3 linked regions of the Homo sapiens genome follow. The protein of the gene in region 3 interacts with the protein of the main gene of each other region in a biochemical or structural test. Each region holds a gene or a part of one and is shown on either strand. Other genes may lie near its edges. The genes, in order: CLEC3B, SDC2 and HGF.

Evidence for each region.
Region 1: the proteins of HGF (region 3) and CLEC3B form a complex in vitro, tested with the Homo sapiens proteins (one study listed by BioGRID).
Region 2: the proteins of HGF (region 3) and SDC2 form a complex in vitro, tested with the Homo sapiens proteins (one study listed by BioGRID).

What each region holds. Positions count from the first base shown.
Region 1 is NC_000003.12:45,029,286-45,036,636, forward strand, and holds the end of CLEC3B (tetranectin), read left to right. Parts: intron 1-857; exon of another isoform or gene 858-952; intron 953-1,541; coding exon 1,542-1,640; intron 1,641-6,238; coding exon 6,239-6,639; 3' UTR 6,640-6,786; downstream 6,787-7,351. UniProt on the Homo sapiens protein: Tetranectin binds to plasminogen and to isolated kringle 4. May be involved in the packaging of molecules destined for exocytosis. Plays a role in retinal function.
Region 2 is NC_000008.11:96,489,564-96,497,049, reverse strand, and holds the start of SDC2 (syndecan-2 precursor), read right to left. Parts: upstream 3,238-7,486; 5' UTR 2,779-3,237; coding exon 2,719-2,778; intron 1-2,718. UniProt on the Homo sapiens protein: Cell surface proteoglycan which regulates dendritic arbor morphogenesis.
Region 3 is NC_000007.14:81,703,792-81,711,142, forward strand, and holds part of HGF (hepatocyte growth factor isoform 1 preproprotein), read right to left. Parts: intron 6,453-7,351; coding exon 6,356-6,452; intron 3,574-6,355; coding exon 3,499-3,573; intron 2,637-3,498; coding exon 2,496-2,636; intron 1,963-2,495; coding exon 1,856-1,962; intron 1,745-1,855; coding exon 1,599-1,744; intron 1-1,598. UniProt on the Homo sapiens protein: Potent mitogen for mature parenchymal hepatocyte cells, seems to be a hepatotrophic factor, and acts as a growth factor for a broad spectrum of tissues and cell types.

The sequences.
Region 1 (7,351 bases), on a different chromosome or scaffold from region 3:
GGTCTGACCCACTCTAGCCAGGGCAAGGCTTAGGAGACAAATGGGCCTTCATGTGTCCCTCAGCAGAATGCCCTTCTTCAGTGCCCCCTTGCACAGCCTCACATGGCACCCTATGCTGGTACATCACGTGACTGGGTACAGTGCTGCTATAACTGGTGGAGGCAGTCTCTGTGTGAGGCACACATGACCTCAGGCTGGTTTGCCAGCCCCAAACTCTCCCTTTTTTTGCCTTGCTCATCAGGGTGTTTTTGCTCCAGTTTGGTAAGTTACATCGCTAATTTCTATATACACAACCATGTGTCTTGCCTGTGATTCTTCTGCAAAGGCACCTTATGGGTGGACGAAGGCTCTGATCTCACTCTTTGTGAGTGTGGAATGTATGCAGACACAGCCAAATGGACCATTAAAGTGTTTCCCCACCCACTTCCCCAAGCTGAGTGCAGCCTTTCCTGAAGCCCTGGTGTTTCAGAAAGACCAGGGTCCGCCCCAGGAGCTCTAAACTTACACACACATAGAAATATGCTTCCCGGCACCCTCAACTTACACACACATAGAAATATGCTTCCCCGCCTTCCCCTGCTGACTCTTACATGACTGGCTGCCAGCAGGACAGCTCCTGTTAGGAATCCGTTTGTGTGCCATGGGGAAGGTGGGGAAGAGCATGGCTTCAGAGCCATGTGCACCTGGGTTCCAGGCCAGCCCTGCCAGCTGGGGCTCTGCCATCCTCGGCCAGTTGGTTTAGGGCAGCCTGGGTTTCCTCATGGTGAAATGCTGGTGGTACAGAATGACACGTTACCTGTGTCATAGGGTTGATTATGAGCATCACATGGGGTGACATGTAGAACGGCTTAGCCCAGAGCCTGGCCTCCTCTGTAAGAGTGGAAAACCTGGGTTCCTTCTGCCCTCATCTTATTAGTAGCTGTGATGGGCACACACTCAGCCAAGCACTGAGGTAGGCAGCTCTGCGTTTCAGTTCTCTTAGTCTTCTCCAGAGTCCTAGGAGGTGGGGCTGTCATCATCCACTTCATACATGAGGGAACCAAATCCAGAGAGGCTGAGCAGCTCGCCCAGGCCACCCGTGTCTGTGGCACCTCCAAGCCCTGCATATGCGTGCCCCAGGCTGGAGTGCCTGCTGGTCTGTGTCGCATTCCTCCAGCCTGGGGAAGTGAACCTGGGGGCTTCTTGAGGGCTCCTGCTGTGCTTCCTGTGCTGTTCTTCCCTGGAGCTGAAAAGGTAGCTGGGTGGTGGGGGATCACTGAAGCCTGTGCCTACACCCTCACCCCTGCCTCTGCTAATCCCAGCCCCATCTGATCCCCAGCAACAATCCCAAACAAATGCAGCACAGGAGCAAGTGAAGGATGGGCCCCCTGGCAGAAGTCACAAGTGGTTAATTAGACTACCACCAGCAAGGATAGAGAGAGAGAAAGTTTCCCAAGATATCAAGGTTGAGGGGAGTCTTTTCCTCTCATCCCTCTGCAGCTAAGGTAGGATCCTTCCTGCTCAGTCCCTGCCCCACCCTGACATATTTCCTCCTGCTTCAGATGTTGTGAACACAAAGATGTTTGAGGAGCTCAAGAGCCGTCTGGACACCCTGGCCCAGGAGGTGGCCCTGCTGAAGGAGCAGCAGGCCCTGCAGACGGGTGAGTGCAGGCAGTAGCCTCTCTGGGCAGGAGCGTCTGAGAGAAGGGCCCAGGCCAGCAGCCAGCAATGCTCTTCTCGCCTCCGTTCAGCATCAGGGTCCTGGCTCCATTAGTCCAGGCCTATGGGTGAAGGCACCAGGTTCAGGGAGCCCCACCTCTTTCTCTTGGGGAGATCCCCTGACACGTGTCTGCAAAACTCACCTGGATGTGTACGGCCAAATCTCTGGCCACAGCTGGGTGGTGTGGAAGTGGGGATGTCCCAAGAGGACAAAAAATTCTCCAACAAGAATCCACTACTGCCCACCAGAAGTGACCCTGGAGCGCTCGATGGGGCAGAGGTAGTGGCCCACCCTAGCAAAGCTCCCAGGAGCCCCTCACTCAGCTGGCCTCTGCAGCCCCAGAGAGCTCCACACTCCTGTGTGTCAGCAGCTTTGCTGACCCTGTCTCTCTTAATCGTAACTCTGCTGAGGTGGGATTTGTCAGCTCCATTTTAAAGATGAGCTGTCAGCTCCATGAAATGTCAGCTCCATTTTAAAGATGTGTCAGCAGCAACTGAGGCATAGACAGGTCCTGAACCTGGCTCATACTCACCTCGTTGGTTAGTTGACTCGTGGAAGAGCAAGAGTTGAATGGAGGCAGGCTGCCCAGTGCCAAGCTGGGCCTTGGTGTTCCTGGCTCTGCACTAGCCAGCTGAGGGAGGGTGCACAGAATCACCAAGAACAGGGCCCAGGCGCATGGTAAGGTCATGCCCTCTGGCCAGCATACCTGGCAGCCTATTGTTTCTCACTCCCCATGTTCCTGTCATATAGTCTGCATTTTCCACATACCTCCGATTTACCTACCTTTATATGACCTCACCTTCCATTCTATGGAGAACACAGACTCACAATACTGATGACTATTTACATGTGAGCCCACTACATTCTGGCACTGTTCTTGATGCTTGATGCAGACTCACAATACTGATGACTATTTACATGTGAGCCCACTACATTCTGGCACTGTTCTTGATGCTTGATGCACGTTAACTCATTCACAGCACACCCGTGCAGTGGTCCTGTTACTACATCCTCACCCTTATTTTCCACCGAGAAGGACCTTGTGACAGCCGAAAGGAGCAGAGCCTCACTTAGCTCTGCTATGCTGCCCCTCGAGTTATCAGCTGGGAAATCACCTTGACTCCTCAGCAAATCTATAAACCACCCTGTGTCCACAGCCACTCTCTTACCTGTTGCTTTTGTGACCAAGGCCCATCCATCTGCAAGGCCTTCCCTTCCCCGCCTGCCTCCTCAGAAACCCCCAACAGCCTTCTCACCGGATGGTTTTACACACTCCCTCCCATTCATATGCTTTCCTTCAGCATTCACACTGCCATCCTTCTGCACTCCCACCACAGGGCCTTTGCATGTGCTGTTTGGGCAACCTGAATTGCTCCCCCAAGATCCACCTAATAAATGCCTCCAGCATTATCTTCTCAGGAGTCACTAATCCCTCATCTCAATCAGCTCCTCAGTTATAAGCTCTCCCAGAACAGTGTCCTTTCTTTTATCACACTGACTGCAGTCTGTAATGATACACTCATTTCCTGATTTGTGTCTGCTGCCTCCACTAGACTATAGTAAGCCCTGAGAACACAAGGGCCATGTTTGCTTTTCATTGCCCTTGTCTCTTCCACTACCCTGCCCAGCATAGTGCCTGCCACATAGCAACACTCAGTCAATCTCTGTTGAAGGAAGGACAAACATGTAACTTTGGACAGCTTGCTTGGCATGGCAGGTAGGAAGAGAGTGCTCGAGAAAGGGAGCATCTCCAGAGGTGTTTTTGACTTCATGTAATAGGAAACCTATCAGTGGCTTAAACAAAAAGTAAGTCTGCAAGTAGGTAGTTATAAGTTTTTGTTCAGAAGTTTCACCTCATGGTCTTCAGATGGCTGCCCCAACTCCAGGCATCATGAGTGCATTCAAGGCAAGAAGGAGGAAGAGTAGCCCAACCACATCTGTCTCATTTATAGGGAACGTAGTCTTCCACTTCCATCTCATTGACAAGAAATCTATCATATGGCCACCTGCAGCTTTAAGAACATCTGAGAATGCAAGAATGTAGCTTTTCCAGCCTCTATAGTGGAGGTGGACAAGAGAGAAGGGATTTGGAGGCAACAGTGCCTGGCACAGCGGGTATGTTTAGAATGAGCCCAGTGCCACTCTGAGCCTCAGTTTCCTCATCTGTAAGGTAGGCAGGGTAAACTCTAAGGTCTCTCTCATGTCTAAGCTCTGTGCTGTGCAAAGTCAATGTAACCCAGGCATCAACTGCCACCTGGGGTGAGGTAATGAGGTGGGGACCTCCCTGAAAAAAGTTCATGACATATGGAGGCCCAAAGCATGACATATGAAAGCCCCCATGTCTGCTGATTTCTAGGAAGCTGCTGGGCTTCTTGGGGCCTTCTCCTGTTCATTGTCCTCACAACCCAAAGATCACCTTTTCAATAAACCCACCCAAAGCATTGCAGAGCTCTGTTGACCTAACCAGAGTTGAAGGAATCAGGGGGCAACCTTTCCCTCCTCCAACCAGCATACACATGGGAGGTTCCCACCTGGTACATCTCTGCCAGGCACAAGGAGGCAGAGGTGATGCAGCCAGGGCCCTGCTCCCTGGGAACCTCAATATATTCATGGAATCACTTGAGCCCTTGAAAGCTGTGTAGGAATCAGAGAAGATAAAGAGGGTTGATTCCAAGCAGATGGCAGGGCAGGAGCAGAGGTGTGGAGGACTAGCATAAATCGACAGGATCATGAATAGACCAGAGCAACAAAATGTTGGCAGCAATGATAGTATCACGAGAAGTAGCATTGACTGAGGACTACCTATGTGTTGGAGGGAGGTTCAGGTGAGGGTCCTAGGAAGCAACTCTGAGATGGAGTTTAACCCACAGGAGACTTATCAGGAGATACCCTCAGGATCAACCCCTGTGCTAGGGAAGGGATGGAAGGAAGCAGGAGTGGGCAGAAGGAGAAGTCGAGCTGTACTGTGGTGCCACGAAAGCCTCAGCTGACTTCAGGAGCCCTGATGACGGGATGACCCTTCGGCACTGTCCTGAGTCGGGGCAAGAGGGCTTATGGGTCAGTCTTGGGTGTAGGCTGCTCTAGGGAGGGGCACGGCCTTGGAAGAGATGGCTGTCTTCTGCTGAGGCAGTCCCTGCAGGAGGCTGAAAGCTGAGGACTTTCTTCCTGCAGCATTCCTGGCAGCCAGGGCAGTGAATCCTTCATCCCCAACAAAAGTCTAGGTAGCACGTCAGTGTTACCAGCAGGAAGGAAAGGCAATGAAGGCCGCTTGGCTAAGCTGTAGGATAGCACGAGGTAGGACAGCTGACTTGGGGCAGAGTCTGTGGGTAGACACCTCTGTAATGCTTCAGGCCCCATGTTTAAAGTCGGTTGTGGTGTCAGATGCCCATGGGGACACTGGGATGCTGTCCATTGATATTTGTTGAGTGAAATGGAAGTAACTGAGTGGGAATGGATAGAGGGGAGTGCAGACATCCCCCAAAGTGGTGGGGTCACCAGCAAGAGGACAAATGCAGACATACACCTGTCTGTCAAGATATTCCTTTCCACAGAAATCTTTAGTAAAAGGTGAACGATTTATACGATCTCAGGAGAAATCAGAGTATGTCTAGATATTTCAGCTAGAAATCAAGCTGAAAATGCAAACTGCAAAACAAAAATAGATTTTATCCTCCTAACTTGACCAAATATGTGCCTTCATCACAACCTTTGGGGCCAGGCTCAAACTGAGAATTTGTGGACACCTCAGAGTCCCTTGCCTGATCGCCGGCCTCTGACCACAGCCTGTGCCCAGCACTTCCTGTCTTCTCTCTTGCAGTCTCAGCTCTATCCACTCAGCCCCACCCTACCAGCCCTCAGGAGAACTGACCCTGCAAAAGGCACTTGGCAGGCCCTGGAAGCTTGCTTGGGCTGTTTGGGTAGGGATTTGGGGCCCTGGGTACATGAAGTGTGGCCTAGGCTGTAGGTGGGCAGGTGCCCTGGCCCTGCAAGCTGCTTGATCTTAGGGAGGGGCATGGAGGAAGGAGAACCAGAGCAGGTGGCTGTGGCTGGGCTCCCTGGGAAGCTGACTCTGAGACAGAGCTAATTTGTTAGGGTGAGCCCTAGGAGCCACACATGTGGGGGCGGGGGGAAGAGGAAGTGGGCAGAGGGAGAGCTGAGCTGCAGTGCAGGCACCAGGCCAGCCTCTGTGACCCAAGGAGATGGGGTGGGTAAAGGCCAGAAATGACTGAGGTGGAGGCCTGGGAAGGGGTGTCAGCTGGGGCTGGGTGCTTCTGTAGCACAAGGGCTGCCTTTTCTCCCAGCCGCGGGAGCACCAAGACCTCCTGAGTGGGGATCTGGATCTGTACATTAGTGGCCACCACAGCCAGGTCCTCAAAGTGCATGAACCATCAGGACCCCTTTTGCCTGGGTCTAAGGGGCTGTCAGGACTGATGGGATAAACGGGATGGGATGGAGGACGGTGGGCTTGGCCTGGGCGGTTGGCTCTTTGCCTGGGGAACAGGGGGACCTTCGGTGACAGCCATTTCTCCCCACTCCCAGTCTGCCTGAAGGGGACCAAGGTGCACATGAAATGCTTTCTGGCCTTCACCCAGACGAAGACCTTCCACGAGGCCAGCGAGGACTGCATCTCGCGCGGGGGCACCCTGGGCACCCCTCAGACTGGCTCGGAGAACGACGCCCTGTATGAGTACCTGCGCCAGAGCGTGGGCAACGAGGCCGAGATCTGGCTGGGCCTCAACGACATGGCGGCCGAGGGCACCTGGGTGGACATGACCGGCGCCCGCATCGCCTACAAGAACTGGGAGACTGAGATCACCGCGCAACCCGATGGCGGCAAGACCGAGAACTGCGCGGTCCTGTCAGGCGCGGCCAACGGCAAGTGGTTCGACAAGCGCTGCCGCGATCAGCTGCCCTACATCTGCCAGTTCGGGATCGTGTAGCCGGCGGGGCGGGGGCCGTGGGGGGCCTGGAGGAGGGCAGGGGCCGCGGGAGGCCGGGAGGAGGGTGGGGACCTTGCAGCCCCCATCCTCTCCGTGCGCTTGGAGCCTCTTTTTGCAAATAAAGTTGGTGCAGCTTCGCGGAGAGGAGAGGCGCTGCAGTCTGTGCTGTGTCCGCGGGGCGGGGAGGAGGTCCCAGGAGCCGGTTCGAAAGCTCCCTCCGTGATGAAGTAGGCGAGAAGGGAGGAGGTGAAGGAGGGCGAGCTGAGCACACGCGCTTCATGCCACAGGAGGGTGGGAATGAGCGGAGGACTGAGGAGAGGAAGGAGGGAAAGAATAGGGAGATGAAAACGCCCCGGTCTGCTGCTAAGCACAGCACAGTTACCAAAGCCAGGAAACTAACACTGACACGATATTTTATTTACGTTACAGCTCTATTCAAAGCTCCAGGCTTCTTTTTGTAGAATCGTTTCCATCTGCTGGAATCCAGCATCGCCCCCACCCCCCGCCCCATTTCTAGGGGGATGCCCCCACTGCTGACCTCTCCTGCTGTAGATCTATTTCTGGGAGGCACTGACATGCTGACTCTTGCTATGGGGTCGGCGGGGAGTGGGGAGCTGGGCATTCCCCTTCTTCCTCAGGACATCCCGGGAGCCAAATACGACGGCCAGCACTGCCCGACCCGTGCGTCCTTTTCCTTCCCACTCTTCACAGA
Region 2 (7,486 bases), on a different chromosome or scaffold from region 3:
ATGTGTTTATAGCAGTCTGCAATATATTATTTCTAAAGATAAACAGTCATGTACAAAATGGACAGAAAACCAGCAGCATATCACTACTGCCACACTCAGTCAGATTTTCCCCTTGCCTGGTGCTCCGCAGCCAAAGTCCTAACCTGCCAGTGGAAAGTATGAATGGATCACTAGGAACAGGCTTTCCCAGCTGCCTCCAGGATCCATAAAGGAACAGCTACCAGTTCCTTTTCATAGGCAGTTTTGAGCCTTAGTTCCTGAGAACCTCTTTTTTACCCCCAGAGCTAAGTATAAAACTTAAGAATTCACTAACTGTAGGCAGTTTTCCTTTCTTCCTTTAAAGGGAGACTTTAAACCCAAATCACTACTTCTAAATCCCAGGAAACAGTTGCAGTTTTCAAATTAAAATGCAAAGTCCTGGAAATAATATTCTGTAATTGCTAATTTTTTTTTAAATTCAGTCTTTTGACTTCATTTATATTTTTGCTGCTATACATGAAACAAACGGAGACTGAAAAGTAATTTAAATGGACTGTTAGCCATTCTGGGCCTTGAAACAGCTTCTATTTAGAAAGACTGACTCACTGCCTAACAAAGATTCTCTGCTAGTCTCTAAGTTGACATTTTATAAATATCTAATCACCCTTTTTGGATGATTTTCCAATTACTGAAAACAGTGTCTATCACAATGAAGCAGTTCACTCGGAAAGCATCCAGTTCTGGTTCAAATTGAGAAATATTAGAACCCCAAAGATACACAGTTCAGGGGAAAGCTGTCACCGGGGAGGACAGGTATATAGTTCGGCCAAAAAACTTCCTTAAGGAGCACTGGTAGATTTATGCAAAAACCCAGAGGAGCAGAAGACAGAAACATTCTTTCTCCAGAATCCCAAAACAGTAACATTTCCTAGCAAATCCATGAATAAGACTCAGCAAAAAAAAAGGGCCTCCTTAACCATGTGCAGTTTTTTAGGCAGGCTCTTGAAATTTATTAGATGAAGTCCCTTTGCCCTGTTTTGCAACAAGAGGAGCAACAACGCTCATCTGAAATAAACAAGAGAACTGCTGCCTTTTGGTGTACAAAGAGCCAAAGTTCATCCTAACTGGCTGGGAGATAACTAATACCAACGGATTAAACCATCATTTGCCAAAGGGAAACACTGATAAGGCTGGGAGTTCTATTTTACAACCTGAGCACCCAAAATACTCATGTAGTCTGTACAGTTTCCAATTCTACATGCTCTCCAACCACAAAGAACGTATGGGGATCTGCTAGCACACACAGAGGCTCCCACACTGATTAAAAATGTCCATCTGCCGCTCGATGCCAAAGAGGTTTCCCAGTCCTAAATTAGCCTCAGCACAAAAAAGGGGGGGAGGGAGACTCAAACTCATAAAACTACCTAAAAGACCTTAAGATGATATAATTTGTCTTTGAAAAGACCATTCAATTAATTAGAAATTGACACGTTATTAAATGGCAAAGGGAGAGGACGTGGGGAACCAGAAGGGCCAGAAACAGCCGCACTCCCTGAGACCCCAGAGGGCACTGAGGCTGCAGACGAAATCTGGGGTGCTCAAGCTTCCACCTGGCCCGACAGAGCTCCTGGCGCCCAGGTGGAGGCAGCTGCGGACGAGAGGAGGCCAAGGAGGCAGTTCCCTTTAGAGGGCGCTCATTGGGCGACGTGGGGAAACAAGCTCCAGCCCCCGAAGCGCGACCAAAAGGAGAAATCAAGTTCCCACCGCCAGGGCGGGGGAGGGAAGCTGGGTGCCGGCAGGCGCTCCGCCGGAGACGAGACTCCTCCCGGCCCCAGAAGCGCCCCGCCAGGGCCAGAGAGGGCGAGCGTGGCGGGAGGGAAGCCTCTGTCCCCCAGCGGCCAGGCGACCCGAAGCCGAGCGCCGTGTCACACGTACCCCGCCTCGCCCTGCTTGCGGCACTCCCGTGTAACTCCTATGAAAATGTCCTCCCGTCCCTGACGCCCCGCGGTGCAACCTCCACCCCTCAACGAGGAGGGGGTCGCCGCAGGACTGGGAATCCAGTGGCCGGCGTCCCAGCATTTTCGGACGCGTTCCGTGCCTCCCCCAGTATCCCCTTGAGGGATCGCCTACTGCGATTCCACGTAGTGTCGGTTACCTCGCCCTAGCCGCAGGGAGCATCAAACAAAAGAACTTTTGCAAACTTTTCTCTCTGGACACTCGCGGGTCTCTTAAATCTGGCCCCCATCTCCCCAGAACTTGCATGCAGTCAAACAGGAAAGCTGGCGCGGGGGGGATGGTGTGCGGAGGAAGGGACCCCGAAGTTTCCAGGTCATCCCTGGTCTCGAGGAGCGCGCGGAGTGGAGCCGTTCCCTCGCGGGCCCGACCCAGGCTCCCCCCTCCTGCCACCCTTTCCCCTCCGTCCTTCCCAGACCACGCAGCAAGACCCGCCGAGGGCGAAGAAGTTGGGAGTGACTTCAGGGGCCTCTGCGGCTAGACCAAACCGCAATTCTCGGTGCCCCCATTCCCGCGGACCGCGGGGTAACGCCAGCGAGCAGCGCTTTTCTGAGGAAGGGAAGAGGGGGAAAGGGTGACCGGACGAGCGCATTTGTCCCAGCGGATCTCCGGTGTATACTTGGGGACTGGGGGTTCCCCAGGTGGCGCTCCCCTATTCCCTGCGGGCTCCTCTCGTAGCTTCAAACACCCTAAACGGCGCGCGCATCCTCCGCCTGGCCCACTCACCGACTCCGCCGACACGCAGGCCACCAAGCCCAAGGTGAGCAGGATCCACGCGCGCCGCATATTCCCCAGGGACCGGCTGCTCCCAGCCGCTGCTTGCAACCAGGGCAAAACGAAGCCTCCTGCCCAGCGCTCGGCGCAGCCCGCGCACACGAATCCGGAGCAGAGTACCGCAGCGATTGCGGCTCAGGCTCGGGGACTCGGGCTCGGGGCTCGGGGGCGCTCGCTTCCTCCTCCTGCGCCTGCTCCCGCCGCCCGCAGCTGCGCCCCGGGAACGCGGCGCCCTCTCACTTGTTGGTTTCTGCACTCCCGACACGGAGTTGGTGCTCCGGGAAGGCTGCTCTCTGAAGCTCTTCTTGCTCTGCTGTGGTTTTGCTCCTCCGCGGACTCCTTTCCCGTGCCGAGGTTCAGTTTCTGGTTTTAAGGAATAAATTCGCTGGCTTGAAAGGGAGCTACGGCAGAAGTTTAGGGGCAGAGCGGCGGGAGCGCGCGATCCGCGCGGCTGGAGCTCCGGGGGTATCTGGAGAGCAGCGCGTCCAAGCGGGGCCACTGGCTCCGCGGCTGCGCCCCTCCTCCTCCCGCGCCGCGCCTCCCTCCCCGGGTCCTCCTCCTTCTCCTCCTCTTCTTTTCCTCTGGCTCCCTCCCTCCTGAGCCTGCTTCTCCGGGCTCCCCTGGGCGACTGGGGAGAGGAGGCGGCAGTGTGACTCCCAGATAAACCCGGGAGAAATTCCTACAGGATTACACGCCGATTGGCAGCTCCGAGGACCAGTGGGCGCCGCGGCTCCGCGCTGTGGCTGCGCCGGCTCTGCTCACCGGCAAGCCAGGGCTCCTGCGTTTTCTCAGTCCTTTTCTTCCTTTCTCTCCCCACTTTTCCTCTCTCCTCTATGCTCTTTTCTTCCCCGTTGTCTTTTCTCTTTCCCTTCTTCACTTTCCCTTTTCTAGAGAACAATTAGTGAAGAAACGAGAGACGTATGTAGCTTTTCTGCCTTGAGAATTCGACCAGTAGAAAGAAACTGCTTTGTGAGTTGAGGGAAAAAAAAAGTGTAAGATGCTTTCAAGCAATGTGAAGTGTTCATAAATCGCCAGTTCATGAAAATTGCATTTTAAAAGAGAAGATAATTAATGTAATAAATATATAGTGAGAGTGTTTCCCATTCTCCCAAATCCTTCCGCACCCCCAAAAAAGGGACATGGAGGAAGGATCCTGTAAACCCAAAGTGCAACAGTTTGAAAGCTCCTAACTTCATTAAGGGCTTAAATACCATTTCTCCCTCACACACAGTTTATGCCACTAAGGCTTTTTATAGGCTCCATTTTAGCAGATAGGTGTTAACGTTTGGAAGCTACAAATAGGGTAATTTGATGAGAAGTTGGATAGAGACCCTGAATAATAACAGATTTAAGATAACTTCAAAGAAAAGAGGGATAAAGTAATTCTTAGTTTGAAGAAAATAATGAACATGTATTTCCTAAATGGAAGTAGCTGACATGAAATATTTTGTTACAATGTCTGTGGCATATTATAGAACATGGCAAATGCGTATTCCCTTCCAGTTTCTTTTTCTTACTGTCACAAATTTTACACACAAATCCCTTGCAGTTCGTGCCATCATTTTTCTCTCTGACTTATAGAGTAAATGAATTATGACGCCATTCTGCTCCTGGAATGCCCACTACAGGAAACCAGAGACTTTTCTGTCTGTTCACCATTGTATTCTCATTCCTGGTACATAAAGACACATGATAAATATTATCTTGAATAAATTTTGCTCTAAAGCTCAATTTATACCGTATAAGAGTTGTGAGCCTTTAAAATACACCAATGTAGATATATAGATATGAGGCCATGGTAATTTTTCAACTCAGTATTAGAATAAAATACAGTCATACCCTCAGTGAGAATTAAATGTCTTAGTAACCTATTACTGTAATAAATCTCAAAGAAAGAAATTTAACTGGAGAATTACAACTCAAACTTGGAGACACTTATTCCTTTGGTTTTGTGTGCCAGCTACCAAACCTACAAATGCTCATGAGCAAGTCTAAGGCATTGGCCAACAAAAAGGTAATATGGAGAAATAGAAGAGTAGGCAAAGGAGAAAGAAGAAAAAGAGCAATAGGCCAGAAGTTGTAACATCAGATGATGCTTCTGATTCCACAGACACTGTAGCTGGCATCTGTGCCAATGTGGGCTCCACTTAGCTTTTGAAAGAATGAACCACAGCCTTTTTTTTTTTTTTTTTTTTTTTTGAGACAGGGTCTCATTCTTGCCCAGGCTGGAGTGCAGTGGCCTGCACTGTAGCCTCTACCTCTCAGGCTCAAGCAGTCCTCCCACCTCAGCTTACCAAGTAGCTGGGACTACAGGCACAGGCCACCACACCAGCTAATTTTTGTGTTTTTTATAGAGACAGGGTTTTCCATTGTTGCCCAGGCTGGTCTCAAACTCTTGGGCTCAAGTGATCTGCCTGCCTCAGCCTCCCAAAGTCCTGGGATTAGACACGTGAGCCACCAGCCTAGTGCCCTTATTTTTAAGATGGAGTCTGTGGGTTGAAGAGGTTCATGAGATGGGGAGACTTCTTAAAAAGGCCTCCAAAGGAAAAGCAGCAATGCAAAATACATGCAAAGAGCCATAAAATACCAGCTCTGTCCTCATAAGAGGCCTCGTCTACTCGCCAGCCTTCAGGCAAGGCCACACCTCCATTGTCCCCAACAGTTAAGTATTCATCAAATAAATTGGAATTCCAGTAAAACAGGAAGTGCACTCCACTGATTTGCTGGTTCTCACAGTTATTGCTGTTTACTGGGGCACCCATGTAACAAGAAGCGTGGTGAATGCTCTCTGATTCAGCTTGGGCAGACAGTGATAAAAAATGAATAAGTGGATACACGTGTTGAAGGGATATTATCTGTTTGCTGCCCTGAAGGCACACCCCAAGGCTCTTGGTGTTGATGAGATGCTCAGTGACTTGTTTCTTTAAAGATGATAAATACTCCATTGAGAGTATATATAATAAGGGAATTGGTACCATTTTGAGTGACACAATATTAAGGAGATGAAAACAAATATTCAAGATCTTGTGTTCAGATTTATTAACAGCTGTGGCAAGAAGGATAATCTGACAGTATAAAAAGCACTTACACAAGAGCTGGCTACAAAGAGGTCACCCATGCTGAGTGGGGATGGGGACAGAAGTCAGGGGAGGTCCGCTGGTATTAGTCAGGATTTGTCTAAATTCGCAAACGATGTAGGCCTGTTTGTGTGTTTTGCTAATTGGAAATGTTTAAAAAACTGATGGGGACTAAAATTTGGCAGAATTTTGTGTAGTATATCTAATTCACTAAGTATAGCTTGTGACTAGAACCAAAGGTTCTTTGCAAATATACTTCAAGTCCTCAGGTTTTGAGGGCTATGCTTTGAGGGGCACAGCTTAACCAATCACTTCCCAAATAGCTTCATTGATTGCTAAAAGAATAATTACCACACTTCAAGAGTCTCAGGAGAAAATATTAAAAATAAACAACATAGAGATTAAGATGCAAACATGTAAAAACAAATAAAAAATAAAGAGAACCAGACAAGTGAAAAAATAGAAATGAAAGCTACTAAAGACAGTTTTTAACCTAAACTGACACATCGGACTCTGTCACTACGGTAACAAATGATACCACATTACAACCGTGGATAAACAGGTGTTCTGTCCTGAGGTGAGTTGTCAGAGTAGGGGATAGCGGAAAAAAAAGATGCCATTCTGTTGTTCTCGGTTGTTCTTCCACTTGGCACCCCCTGGACTGTTACCAGGAGTCCAGGCTAGAAATCAATTTGGTAGGATTGGCTCTTATGAAATTCACTTGAAAGATGATAGAAGCTGAGAGGAATAGGATATCCATCCAGCCAACCATTAATGAGCCATCGCTAATACTGGCAAGTGAGCTGAGGCCATGACCAAAATCTACAGGCAATCCAAAAAAATCTATTTTCAGGCCTGGCGCGGTGGCTCACACCTGTAATCCTAGCACTTTGGGAGGCCGAGGCAGGCAGATTGCCTGAGCTCAGAAGTTCAAGACCAGCCTGGGCAACACGGTGAAACCCCGTCTTTACTAAGAACAACACAACAAAAATTAGCCAGGTGTGATGGCGGGCACCTGTAGTCGCAGCTACTTGGGAGGCTGAGGCAGGAGAATTGCTTGAACCCGGGAGGTAGAAGTTGCAGTGAGCCGAGATCATGCCACCGTACTCCAGCCTGGGCAACAGAGCGAGACTCTGTCTCCAAAAAAAAAAAAAAAAAGTCTATTTTCAGCCTCAAACTTTCCACTGTTCTCTTTATTCACCTCCATCAACCCCTTCCCAGAGAAGTTGGCTGATTTGAGTTTCATAAAATGATATGGTGCTAATGTTGAACAAAATTGTTACAGTTTTGGATAGGAGGACACAGGAAAATCAAGGAAGTGTATAATACATAAAATAAGACAGGAGATAAAACAGTTACTTCTGTTTTTCTTTTTCTTTTTTTTCTTTTTTTCTTTTTTTAGAGACGAGGGCTCACTATATTGCCCAGGCTGGCATCGAACTCCTAGACTCAAGTGATCCTCCCCCTTGGCCTCCGAAGGGTCTGAGATTACAGGTGTGAGCCATCACACTTGGCCCTTCATGTCAGTTTTTCTAACAGTGTGGTATGGTTCTTTAAAGGCTGGCAAAATTTGACATTCAGTCAACAAATATGTATGGATCACCTGCTGCAACTCAGGTACTCACTGGGTAGGCACATGAATT
Region 3 (7,351 bases):
AAATGGAAAGAAGAGAGCCATTGGCATTCTGTGATGGGGAAAACCAAGTTAGGGGTAAAGTAGAATTTCACACAGTAAAGAAAAATAGTTTATTCCAAGAGACTATATAAACTATGCCAGTTGAGGAAAGAAAACTGATTTTTAAACAAATGTACTAGTGATTACTGAGACAAACTCCTCAAAGTAATTCACTCTGGAGACTTTCACTAAATATGATGTTACTGCTATTATACAAACATTTGGGAGATATCTCCTTCAAATTTATTTCAGTGGCTAAATTACCTTGATTTAAATGTCAGTGACATATATATTTTTAAAAACATTCTGGAGGATAAATACATTTTTGAGAAGTGGCGGAATCTACTTGAGGTCAAGTCTTATCAATAAAGTTAAAAACAACATATATAGTATACAGATATGAATAATTCAAACTGAAGAGGGAAGTGAAAAATATATAGGTGATAATCCAAATTAAAGGCTATTCTTCAAAAGCAGTTGTCAAATTGGTTTTGGTAATGACAATAATTAGATGATCTGTAAGGTTGGGTCTAGTTAGAAACTTCTGTGTTTCCCGGATGCTTATTGCTTTTTCTTTTTAAAGTATAGTCATTTATTTCTCCTAGTAAATGTTCCCTTGTTATAATGAACAATGGTTTCATTGTTCATGATTTACTAGAAAGGCAACAAATTTGAAACTGGTTATAAACATATAATCTGTTTCTAACCATATCATTTTTAAGCAGTTCTAAAAACTCAGTAAACAGTAAACATTTTCTCTTCTTTTCAGAAATAAAATCTCAGAGCAAGGTGTATAACACTTGCATTTCAATACATATTTATGTTCCATACTTACAGCATGCATTTTCCTACATATCAAAGGACATTTCACTATCATTGAACTCATTTCATCTTTTGCCACACACAGCATTCCACAATCCCACAGCCCTGAAGCTTGGAGAACATGTCTCTCACATTCAAAATCTAACTAAACTAACAGTTTAACAGCTTGTCTATGTAAAATAGGGATAGGAACATTGCCAAGCCGAAATAACAGTTGCCTCACAAATGAAATGTCCAAGCTCGTAAAGTCACAAACTTTGACCTTTAGGCTTTTTAAAATAGAATCTGTTTAAACACATACACAGAGCGAGAGAGCAAAAGAGGGAACAGCTTACCCAAAAAGAGATTTAAAAGTTTAAAGCCAGGCATCTCTGAATGATATAATTAGTGGAGTTCACTTCGAGATAATTTGGGAAGATAAAATAAATTTAGAAAAACATTAGAAAAATGCAAACCATTGATCTAACTGATTTGGATACTTCTCATTTGAATAGCTCTCCCTTGGAGTTCCGGCTCTACACACTTATTATTTTTTGAGTGACAAATGTCATCATAGTTTGCTGCTAATAAAACATTGATTATCTCACTGCTTAGTTGAAAGAAATGCAGAATATTACAGAGTTAATTTTCCCAATTCCTCTTTCCTAGAATAGGTTGGTATACAATATTTTTGATTTGAGAAAAATAAACAGAAAAAAATAAACATGAAACACTAAGCTATGAATCACATACTCCTTATTAAAGAACTTCCTTTTTACCTCACATGGTCCTGATCCAATCTTTTCAGCCCCAGCACATATTTCAGACTCATTCAGAGTCACCTTCCCTCGATGATGCTGGCTGCATTTCTCATTTCCCATTATATAGAGATGTGCCACTCGTAATAGGCCATCATAGTTGATCACTAGATTGATGCAAAAAACATACAATAAGGTGAGAAAAGTAAGAAACAAAGACAAATGTGTTCTTTTTAAAATAAAATAAATATGGCCTCATCTTTTGAAAACTAGCTTACATCCAGTGTAGCCCCAGCCATAAACACTGCAACTGGTCTTTTCAGGAATTGTGCATCCATAATTAGGTAAATCAATCGTACTAACAAAATCATCCAGGACAGCAGGCCTGAAAACACAAAATACAATGGTAAGTACTCTCAACTGGATTCAACACAAAATTAACATATTAAATGTAGTGTTCATGTTTAATATGGCATTTACAGAGAATGAAGTCCTGTTTCTTAAAAAAAAAAAAAAAAAGGTGGGAATGTCCAAATGTAATGATGACATTTGGAATAGGTAGTAAAGAAATGAGTCATGTATTTGCCAATATTTAAGAATAAATGGTCAATGCTATTTTTTAAAATAATTATTTTACATTTGAAAGTTATCAAATAACTGCTGAGTTTCCATTTTAAAACAGACTGATCAGACTGTTGGCCCAATGTTAGTTATTCATTTTTTTACAGTTTTGCAAATACCTTTCTCTCTATACTCACAGAGAGACCCAAACGCACGCATATATACATATATATACAGCATGTAACATATGTTTATAATGCATCTGTATGAGAGAGAACGAACTGCCACACAGCTGAAGAAAATGCTCCAACAATTCTTGTCCAGGTGAAAAATACAAAATCTTCTAAAGTAACTAACCTGGCAAGCTTCATTAAAACCAGATCTGATCCTTCAGGGCCATATACCAGCTGGGAAACATTGAGAACCTGTTTGCATTTCTCATCTCCTCTTCCGTGGACATCATGAATTCCAAGCCAAGCTTCATAATCTTTCAAGTCTCTGTTTTGAAGGAAAAAAATTTAAATGTAAAACATAATAATTCCAAATTCTGTAGTATTATTCCTATCTATTGTTATTTTAGACTATTAAGGCACATAACCTAAATTTAAAATTTGATTCATAGTATAATAAAGAACAACACATTTGTTATGGCAGATTCTGAATACTACAAACATACATAAGCAGAAAGAGGCTTTAAATTGCTGAGATTCTAAATGACTATTTTAGAAACTTGCTTATGCTTGCTAGAAGTCACTTGTGAAAAATGCTCAGGTAAAGCACTTTACATGAATTATAATTTTTTCTGCAAATTTTGCTTTGTTTATGTCAGCTGTGTATATATTTGGTTTGGTAACAGGGGTTGAAGTTTTCTACAAACAAAATCAAAGTGACCTTGCTGAGAAGCAGGAAGGAAGTTTACAAATGCTGCCTCTTTATCTTTTCCTTAGGCTAATTTTCATTGAAAATTATGCCCAGGATGATCCTGAGGCTGACTCTACAGGAGAAAGAAGTAGTGAGGACTGAAAAAAGCCTATTGACAATTTAGAAAAAAAAAAGAATTATATCTAGAAATACAGGGTACAAGTAGAAAGTTGGGATATAAAACATTTACATAATTCTAGCAAAATTTTCCCCAACTGAGGGTAACACTAATTGTGAAAAGAGGTGAACTGAAGTAGTGTCTTGTAAATATCTGTGAAGTCAAAGTAAGTTTTGTAAGCCAAATTCTAAAAATGAAATAATTTGTTCACCCCATTTGTGAATCTCTGTAAAATGAATACATATTATAACCTTAAGAGCAAAGTGGAAGACATACACATTTTAAAGGCTCAAAATAATACTAGTTTTAAAAACACTTTACCGAGAAGGGAAACACTGTCGTGCAGTAAGAACCCAACTCTCCTTTATCAATGATCCTCCGCAGATATGTTTATTTCTGTGAAAAAGAGGAAAGAGAAACAAGTAACATCTGTGCAGAAAGAGTGACTGCCAATTAATGCAAAGCCTGTGGCTCCATTTGTTAAAAATAAATACACTGCAGAGGAAAATATAGAAATTAACCCAACTGGAATAAAATGAGAAGTTCTTTTATCTGAAGGGTGATATTTGGTGATTGTAGCGTTAGCTTTTTTTTCATAATGTGACTATAAATTTATGAAATCAATTTGACTTTTGTGTAGTCTAAAGTTATTACACATCAATAGCCATCCCGAACACACATATTCGTGTGTATGTGCATCTATCCTTGTGAGGAACGTATGTGCTACAAATATAGGATAATTATAATTTCTTAAAAATGTGAATCTATTTTAAATTCAGTGTTTGCTTATTAAAAATGCAAAGTTGAGTTCTTGTTTGAACCCTGAAAACCATCTAGTGGTAGCAATTTTATTCGTGCACTATTTCCTTCTTCTACTACCATTATGTAGTTTTGATATATTAACATAAAATGTAACTGAATCTGAATAAATTACTTTGTCCAGTATAAGATCAGGAATATAATATTTCATCTCTAAAGTAAAACAATTTTGCAAGGCAAATCATTTAGGAAATTGTAAAATATTTGCAGAGTATGATGAGTACTAGTACATTTTTTTGATGATATCCAAAATCTGTAAATCCATTTTTTTTGGCAGAGACATGGAAAAAGCACAACTTTTCATAATTTACATTTCCAAAGAGTACAGATGTTCAGTGCTTCAGAGGGTAATACTAGAAGATTCCCAGACTGAGACCACAGTTATTTATGGCCTTTACCACACAGGAGGATAAGAATATATATTGACTTTTAATTTCTATCCTTTTCAGTATGAGTTTTGGAAGAATAACTAAGCAGCTGTTGTTGCTAAGAACTTGGATTTAAAAAGGAAAAAAACTAAAAATTTACAGTACTCTAATCTGATGGAAAAATAGCTTCACCTGCTTTTCCAACAATGGAGATGACCAAAGCAGTATCCTTGTGAATTCTCTTACTGGAAAAAATAACTTAGAAGTATTAATATATGTCTTCTTTTATCCTCTGGGGTTATAAGATAAGCAAAGAATCACCAATTAACTCAAATGTGGATTATTGAAAGATTTCTCCTTCCTTCCTTCTTTTTTTTTTTTTTTTTTTTTTTTTTTTGAGACAGAGTCTCGCTCAGTAGCTGGGATTACAGGCATGTGCCACCATGCCCGGCTAATTTTTGTATTTTTAGTAGAGATGGGTTTTACCACGTTGGCCAGGCTGCTCTTGAACTCCTGACCTCAAGTGATACACCTGCCTCAGCCTCCCAAACTGCTGGGATTACAGGTGTGAGCCACCACACCCAGCCTCTTGAAAGATTTTCTATAATTAAGAAAATTAAACACTCCAACAGAATTCTAAAGTCTTTACTAAATCCTCATACTGCACACTCAGCTTTAATATTCTGGTTAGTTTCACAATTCTATTTTAGTACTACACACCTAGGACAGCTATACTACAATTATTGGCATAAATATTTATAAAATCTGATAAGCCATTCCTTGAGAAAAGGGTATACTAAAAAAAGAACTTTAGGCCATCTCCTACAACATTGTGGTCATCTAAAGTCATATATATCAAATTATATAAACTCTTGCTTTCCAATAATTGGTTTATTCATAAAAGGACTTCTGTTTCAAGTTGTCTCTATTCTAATGTCACTGTGATTTAATAATAGTAACAGACATTCTTTTTCTCTACTCTAGGAGGCTAGCGGTAAGGGAACAGGAGGGTATTCTAAAAGAGGGGATATTTAGGTTGAAATTTGAAGGAGAAGGAATTTTCAGGCATAAAACATGGAGGAAGAAAGCCACAGTGTGTTGTGGGAACAACAGCATAAAGGCTTAGAGGAAGAAACGTGAGGTATCTAGAAAACAAGAGACAATGTGGTTCAAATTCAATGTATCTTGGGGTGTGTTGCATGGTAAGGTTCTGATAGAGATAGCCAAAGACATAAATATTTTAGCATTCCAATTAACATACAGAATAATATATGTAGTATATGAAAGTTGTAAGATCAGATTTTAAGTTAACTTATATTTTCAGTATTTAATTCTTATGACATAATTATTAAGCATAATTTTCTCTAACAATATGATTTGCAAAGTGATTTTATGTAGAATATGTCATTGATTCTTAAGAGCATTGAGAAATAGACATGTCAAGAATTTTGTATCCCCACTGATTATTATAATATCAAGACTATTTAACTATTGGCCTTTTTGTAAAGATAAAATGCTCTAGAATTTAAAATTACCATTTTTCATTTGATTGACAAGGAAAAAGTCAGAAATTAAAAACAAATATAAATGTTTTGACATGATCATGCATAAACATATTAGAAAATAAACCCATAATATCCTAGATTGGAAATTTAATAACAAGTATCATAACTACTATGGTAATATTAAGGTTTCAATAGGTCCTCCGTATTTTGCTTAATCGGAACCAAAGTGTCTCTTAGAATCAGGGACATTGCCAACACATATGGGACCTTTGTGAAGATTTAAAAAGGCACTACCTCTGGAGGCACAAATTATAGTCCAGAGCTTACAGTCTGGCAAGCAGATGTGATCAGCTTCCTCTTTTACTGCCTCACCCAGGTGCCCTGTGGAGGGTACAACCTTCAGGACCACATGTGTCCATATTTCTGGGAATAGGACTCTCTTGTACATATTCTGGATATGCATGACTTGCATCTATTAATAATTACCTGTATCTCAAACTAACCATCCATCCTATGTTTGTTCGTGTTGGAATCCCATTTACAACTCGCAATTGTTTCGTTTTGGCACAAGATATTACGGGATCTGAAACAGGACCAAACATAACATTTTTTAAAATAAGAATTTGAAATAATCAGTGCCTCTTAGTTTTCTTAAATGCAATGATAATTACACAAATGTAACTATTCTTATTGTGTCCAAAGAACAGTTTGGTGAAAGAGAAGTTTAATATGACCGCAGCATTATATTAAGTCCTTAACACTTGCCATCTTCATCTAAGAAGTTGAGTAACTCAGAAAAACAAATAAACTCAAAGCAGACAGGATTGCCATGAGAGTGACAATGGCTTTGCTCACAATACACTAAGACCAAGCTCCTCAGGTCTAATCCCTCACCACCCTCAACATAAAATAAACCAAAGTTATTTACAATGGTTATTTCTAATGGTCAGTAGAAATCAATAGATTCAGTGAAAAAAACAAAACCAAGCTTTACTTGGATATTACTTCTGAATTTGTACAGTTAGATTGTAGATTTATTCAATATGTCTTACCAACATTTGATTTATTGAAATCATATCCAAATGATATAATTATTATTTTCAAATCATTATGTCCAAAGACATAATATAAAATTTATTGGAGTAAATGTTTTCCTGACCCTCCTCTGTGCTCCTCGCCTTATCCCCTCTACTTCTGCCCATGGTCTAGAATAGATATCCATTTGCTTCCTGAGCCTGGGGCACAGCAGGTGGTATTCTAAATCAAAAACACTTGAGTAACTTCCTTCAGCTCAAGAGATATGTGAAAATAAAATACAAGTGGCCCCCAACAGATTCTTAAACTGAGGATTAACTGAATATCATAGACTGTGTCATCTTGTGCCCACTTGACTGTAGGGCATGCAGAGAAGTTTACAAATAGAGTAGAATAGAGGCACTGAATAACTTTCCAACTTTCAGGTTTCATTCTCCTGAATTCAGC